2 linked regions of the Homo sapiens genome follow. The protein of the gene in region 1 interacts with the protein of each later gene in a pairwise test. Each region holds a gene or a part of one and is shown on either strand. Other genes may lie near its edges. The genes, in order: CCNB1IP1 and OLFM4.

What was found.
Region 2: the proteins of CCNB1IP1 (region 1) and OLFM4 interact in a two-hybrid assay, tested with the Homo sapiens proteins (one large-scale study listed by BioGRID).

The regions. Positions count from the first base shown.
Region 1 is NC_000014.9:20,313,403-20,316,440, reverse strand, and holds part of CCNB1IP1 (E3 ubiquitin-protein ligase CCNB1IP1), read left to right. Parts: coding exon 1-214; intron 215-2,639; coding exon 2,640-2,973; intron 2,974-3,038. UniProt on the Homo sapiens protein: Ubiquitin E3 ligase that acts as a limiting factor for crossing-over during meiosis: required during zygonema to limit the colocalization of RNF212 with MutS-gamma-associated recombination sites and thereby establish early differentiation of crossover and non-crossover sites.
Region 2 is NC_000013.11:53,038,606-53,042,438, forward strand, and holds part of OLFM4 (olfactomedin-4 precursor), read left to right. Parts: intron 1-3,304; coding exon 3,305-3,517; intron 3,518-3,833. UniProt on the Homo sapiens protein: May promote proliferation of pancreatic cancer cells by favoring the transition from the S to G2/M phase. In myeloid leukemic cell lines, inhibits cell growth and induces cell differentiation and apoptosis.

The sequences.
Region 1 (3,038 bases):
CTCTCACATCTTCTGTGATCAGCATGGCAGTGGTGAGTTTAGTCGCTCACCAGCTATCTGTCCTGCCTGCAACAGTACCCTTTCTGGAAAGCTAGATATTGTCCGCACAGAACTCAGTCCATCAGAGGAATATAAAGCTATGGTATTGGCAGGACTGCGACCAGAGATCGTGTTGGACATTAGCTCCCGAGCGCTGGCCTTCTGGACATATCAGGTTAGTGCTTAGTCTAGTTTCTCTTGAGCATGTGATTTATGGCATTTGTGGGAACTTCTAGTGTCTTTCCTTCATTGTATTATTATTAATTTTTTATGAGTATATGAGAAACTCTTTTTATTAAATTGTTTTCAAAAGCAATACTGTTTATTGTTGAAAATCAAAAGGAAGAAAATTAAAGCACTCATAATTCCATCACTCAGAGATAACCATTGTTTATATTTTGGGTATACACACACACACACTCACACACTCTCTCTCTCTTCTGTATAAAAGTAAGATAACACACACACTTTTATTGTTAAGAGTTGACAGTATATTATATCTGGTATGAATTTTTCTTCCTTTTGAGACGGGGTTTTCTTGTGTTGCCCAGGCTAGTCTCTAACTCCTGGGTTCAAGCCATTCTCCCGCCTCAGCCTCCTGAGTAGCCTGTGCTTCACTTGGTATGAATATCTTGTTAAATATTTTTTAGTTAACTATTCTATAATCATATTTTAATGGTTATATTGTATCATAATTTATTTCCAAGTTATTAAAATGCTATGATAAGCATTCTTATCAAATACGCATCCTTAACTTTTTCCCTTTATGATTTCTACTTTTAGTATTTCCTTTGAAAGACCTCCCTGTGGATGACTTTAAGCATGTCCTTGAATGTATTGTTATATCTTACATATACACTTATACTTCTTAAGGATGTTTGTCATCTGTCAAGTAACTTTTTATTATATTTTTCTGGGTAAGTTGTTTCTCTTACATGCTCCTCTATTTTTCAACTCCTTTGGTTAAATACCAAATAGTGTTTTTGCTGGCTTATGTGGTGAGAGTATGTTTATTTTTGTAAGCAACTGCCAAATTGTCTTCCAAAGTGGCTATACCATTTTATATTGCCAGCAGCAATGAATGAGAATTCCTGTTGCTCCACATCTTTGCCAGAAGTTGGTATTGTCCATGTTCTGGGTCTTGGCCATTTTAATAGGTGTATAGTGGTGTCTCATTTTAATTTGCATGTCTCTGATGACATATGATGTGGAGCATCTTTTCATATGCTTTTTTGCCTTTTTTTTTTTTTTTTTTTTTTTTTTTTGGTGAGGTGTATATGAAGTTCTTGGTCTTTTTTTTTTTTTTTTTTTGAGACGGAGTCTCGCTTTGTTGTCCAGGCTGGAGTGCAGTGGCGCGATCTCAGCTCACTGCAAGCTCTGCCTCCCGGGTTCACGCCATTCTCCTGCCTCAGCCTCCCGAGTAGCTGGGACTACAGGCGCCCGCCACCACGCCCGGCTAATTTTTTGTATTTTTAGTAGAGGCGGGGTTTCACCGTGTTAGCCAGGATGGTCTCGATCTCCTGACCTCATGATCCGCCCACCTCTGCCTCCCAAAGTGCTGGGATTACAGGCATGAGCCACCGCGCCCGGCCGAGTTCTTGGTCTATTTTTAAATTGTTTTCTTATTGTTGAGTTTTAAGTGTTCTTTTTATCCTTACTGTTGAGTTTGAAGTATTCTTTGATCCTTTATCAGAGCTATCTTTTGCAAATATACTCTCCTGATCTGTGGCTTGTCTTTTTATTCTCTTACAGGGTCTTTCACAGAGCAGAGATTTTTAAGTTTAATGAAGTCCTGCTTATCAATTTTCTCTTTCACGGATTATACCTTTGGTGTATTTTAAAAGTCACTGCCAAATCCAAGATCCACCTGGATTTTACCCTATGTTATCTTCTGGGAGTTTCATAGTTTTGCATTTTATGTTTAAGTCTGTGAACCATTTTGAGTTTATTTTTGTGAAAAGTATAAGATCTGTCTAGATTCATTGGGTCCTCAATTTTTTGCTGGCTATTGGCCAGAGGCTGTTCTTAGTTACTTGTCTCTTGGGCCTTCCTGACATGACTGCTTGCTTCCTCAAAGCCAGCAAGGGAGTGTGTCTCCTAGTAAGACAGACCTTATAGTCTTAGGTAATATACTTATGAAGTGACAACCTGTCACATTTTCTGTAGTATTCTAGTCACAGGTCCTGCCCACGTGCAAGGGGATAGGGAGTTACACAAGGGTGTATGTACCAGGAGACGATAATTTGTGGTTGTCTTAGAGTCTATTCTTCATGCTCTGGATTACTTGAAAAATGGGATTATATTTCTTAAAAACCTTTGGAAAACATGTCACTTGTTAAGACAAATACTCAGTTCTTTTGGTGGTATAAAGTTAGTGGTTTGAGAGTATTCTTCCAGACTTTTTTTCTATGCATTTAGTAACATAACTTATTGTTTTCTGTGCCTCATTGTGTATCCTGATTGCTTCTTAAACTGGGTTCTAAATGATAAAATAACATCCCTATATAAGCATCTTTCTTTTCCTTTTGTGTTTGTATAACATTTTACAATATATAACTTTGTACCCAATACCTTAAAAATCTTTTTTCTTTTGGAACCAGGTACATCAGGAACGTCTCTATCAAGAATACAATTTCAGCAAGGCTGAGGGCCATCTGAAACAGATGGAGAAGATATATACTCAGCAAATACAAAGCAAGGATGTAGAATTGACCTCTATGAAAGGGGAGGTTACCTCCATGAAGAAAGTACTAGAAGAATACAAGAAAAAGTTCAGTGACATCTCTGAGAAACTTATGGAGCGCAATCGTCAGTATCAAAAGCTCCAAGGCCTCTATGATAGCCTTAGGCTACGAAACATCACTATTGCTAACCATGAAGGCACCCTTGAACCATCCATGATTGCACAGTCTGGTGTTCTTGGCTTCCCATTAGGTAAGAAAGGACATGTATCAAGTGTCTGTTCTTTAAATCAATGATTTTTTATACTGCTCTGCCCA
Region 2 (3,833 bases), on another chromosome or scaffold:
CAGTCTGTCATAGACAAAAATGTTATGCAGCAAATGACTGTATTTTCCAGAAGAAGAAAAAAATGCAGAAAGTGCCCCAAGTGCCAGATGTGGGACTGGAGGCTCCCAGGCAGGCTGGGCTGCCTCTCCCAAGACTGCACCTCCCAGGAGGAGCTGACATGTGGTCAGCATTGTCCACGCATTCCCAAAGCTACAGATTCATATATGTGAAAAGTTCATATGAATGATTTACTTAAATTAGTAAAGTTCACACTCTGAAGTCTTTCTGGCCCATCCCCAAGCTCTTTTGTGTCTTCTCTAACTCCATGGATGATTGCCATTTTCCTGAACACCACTGAGCATCCTTTAAGTGTCAGCTGAAGAACCTTGAGTTTTTTCCTCAAATGGATCTTTACAGACCCTTCATTTTGTCTGCACCAGGGCAGGCACACCACACATTTTTATAGGTAACAAACTCCAGAATATGCCTTGCTTTTTTTTGTGAAAATCTAGGAGAACCACATTTTATTTAGCAGAGATGACAGTTGAATCACTCATTTTTGTAGAACAACAGCTGCGATGTGCCACCAAAATGTTCCAGAGAAGCTGAGGGTGTTTCATTTGTTCCAAGAGCTGGCAAGGCCAAATGCCAACAAGCATATTTATTTCTCAAACTTCCATTTCTGTAATGGATTGGCACTTTATTTATTTTTATCATAGTCAAGGTTTTATGCCTGAGTTTTGTAGACACTGGAACCTGGCAGCCCTATATCTGCAGTGCACTTCTCAGGGGGACTTGTTAGGTTTTATATATAGTGAGCCCTCCATAGCCTTGGTTCCGCATCTGCAGATATAACCAAACTCAGATTGAAAAATTTCACGGAAAAAAACTAATAAAAATAACCATGTAACAACAGGAACTATACAAATAAAAAACAATACAACAATGATTTATATAGCATTTACATTGTTTTAGGTATTATAAGTAATCTAGACTTGATTTAAAGTATTTGGGAGGATGTGTGTAGATTGTAGGCAAATACTGTACCATTTTCTGTCAGAGTCTTAAGCATCCTTGAATTTTGTTATTCTTGGGAGGTTCTGAAACCAATCCACCATGGATACTAAGAGGTGGCCGTATATATGTTTTAACCTCCCTATCCACCAAAATATCACCAGCTTTGTCATCCTCCGAGTTATGGTACATCCAATGGCAGTGAGCATCAGTTGCCCGAGGAGATACACTAGCAGTGCCAAGGACTGTTTTTTCGACTTTCATTAAAATCCTTTTTGCCTGAAGCCCTAGCCCTTCAGGTCTGTGGTCTATGAGTCTACTTTAATTTGCACAATGGGGTTAAGTGGAAGGGCTGAAATGACAGAAGTTAGGATTGCTTTTGGTATAAGAAGGATTAAAGGCCAACATCTGGCTCTAAATTCATCCAGGCACTGTGGATCAGCTACTTGATATTAGTGTAGTTTTGGGAAAAGTATCACTTCAGTTCAAATTTTTAAAAAGCATATAAAGCCAGCAACTTATTTAATGAGCAGGTCCTTAAAAAAGCCATGGCATTTTCTTTAGAGATCAGACACAGAAAGAACCACCAACTGTGTTTATTAAAATATCCACTTGGATATTCCAATTATACACTAAACTGCCAAGGGAATTTTTGGAAGTATTTTAACTTAATGATCAGACATTCAAATATATGCAACAAATCTGTAATTTAAAGGTCTGATTGCAATAATCAGTTCTTGGAATAAATGTGGGTGCACTTAATGAAATGTGTACTCTACAGGGCACACACACTCACATATTGTGTAGTAGGTTGGATCTCTATGCCACTTTGTAAAAGGCAGAGGGGATCAAAACTAATTGTATATGGCGATCAAAGAAGGAATTCGGCATAGCGCATTTCTCCCTTCTCCAGAAAATACTTAGATGTAGAGCCATGTTTCTAAATGGAAGGAGGGTGGTGTTGGCCGTGGCAACGATTTTGTCCCCAGGGAACATTTAGCAATGCCCAGAGACATTTTTGGTTATCATAACTGGAGAGTGGTTGGATGCAACTGGCATGAAGAAGCCAGGGATGCTGCTTAATATTGTGTAATTCACAGCACAACCCCCACAAGAAATGACAATCCAGTCCCAAATGCTAACAGTGCTGAGGTTGAGAAACAATTAGAGTAAGTGTGTTGAAGGGAGGAGAGATGGCAAGAGACTATGATACAAACCAGTTTAGTTTGGGGAGTTAATGTCTTCAAACATTAAAATGGAGATTAAGAAAAAAGGGCTCAATATCACTTGATCATTAGAGAAATGCAAATCAAAGCCATAGTAAGATACCATCTCATACCAGTCCAGAATGGCTATCATTAAAAAGTAAAAAAATAACAGATGCTGGTGAGATGGCAGAGGAAAGGGAACATTTATACACTGTTGGTGGGAGTGTAAATTAGTTCAGCCATTGTGGAAAGCAGTGTGGTGACTCGAAGAACTAAAAAGAACTATTATTCAACCTAGCAATCCCTTTACTGGGTATATGCCCAAAGGAATATAAATTGTTCTACCATAAAGATACATGGGCGTGTGTGTACATTGCAGTACTATTCACAATAGCAAAGACATGAAATCAACCTAAATGCTCATCAATGGTACACTGGATAAAGAAAATATGGGCCATATACACCATGGAATACTTTGCAACCATAAGAAAGAATGAGATCATGTTCTTTGTAGGAACATGGATAGAGAGCTGGAAGCCATTCTCCGAAGCAAATTAACACAAGAACAGAAAACCAAATACCACATGTTCTCACATATAAATGAGAGCTAAATGATGAGAACACATGGACACAAAGAGGAGAACAACAGAAGCGTACTTGAGGGTGGAGGGTGAAAGGAGGGAGAGGAACAACAACAAAAAAATCTATTGGGTGCTAGGTTTAGTACCTGCGAGACAAAATAACCTTTACAACAAACCCCCATGACATGAGTTTACCTATATAACAAACCTGGGTATATACCCCTGAGCCTAAAACCTTTTTAAAAAATGGAGATTAAAATATACCTGCAAATGATGATGCTGAAGCAAAATTATGTTTAGCCTAGCAAAGTATAAAATCTACCTCCCTTCAATTGGAGTAATAAGTTCTTTGTATATGGATAGATTTTAAAAATCTAGTTAAATGTATTTTTGATCTATTTATTTACAAAACACAATGATTGGCAAGAATCAAATAGTTCTCAACTCAAGGGCTCGGTAGTGGAAGAAGATGGTGTGATACTACTCAGGGAATTGGCTTGAACCTTTTGATTTTCTTTCAGGTGAGGGAATATGTCCAATTAATTAGTGTGTATGAAAAGAAACTGTTAAACCTAACTGTCCGAATTGACATCATGGAGAAGGATACCATTTCTTACACTGAACTGGACTTCGAGCTGATCAAGGTAGAAGTGAAGGAGATGGAAAAACTGGTCATACAGCTGAAGGAGAGTTTTGGTGGAAGCTCAGAAATTGTTGACCAGCTGGAGGTGGAGGTAAGGAGTGAACTCACTTCTTGGTAAATTAATAATAAACTCCCTTCAGTGACTGTAAGCAAGTACTAGTACCAGGAAGTGAAACTATCTCTTCCAACTTCTAATTCTCTACTGTCTCATGGCCACATGGCATATCACTATGTTCTGTTTTGGATAAGGGCATGTGTTTGAATAGTAAGTTAAGCACATTGGGAATGTGCTGACTTAGGAGCAGATGTTGTCTAATGGTCAGAATCCTGCCCCAGAATAAAATGCCCTTTCAACTTCTCTGAAAAGGAGCTGGCATAAAGTTGAACAACGGTTCATGGCCAAGCTA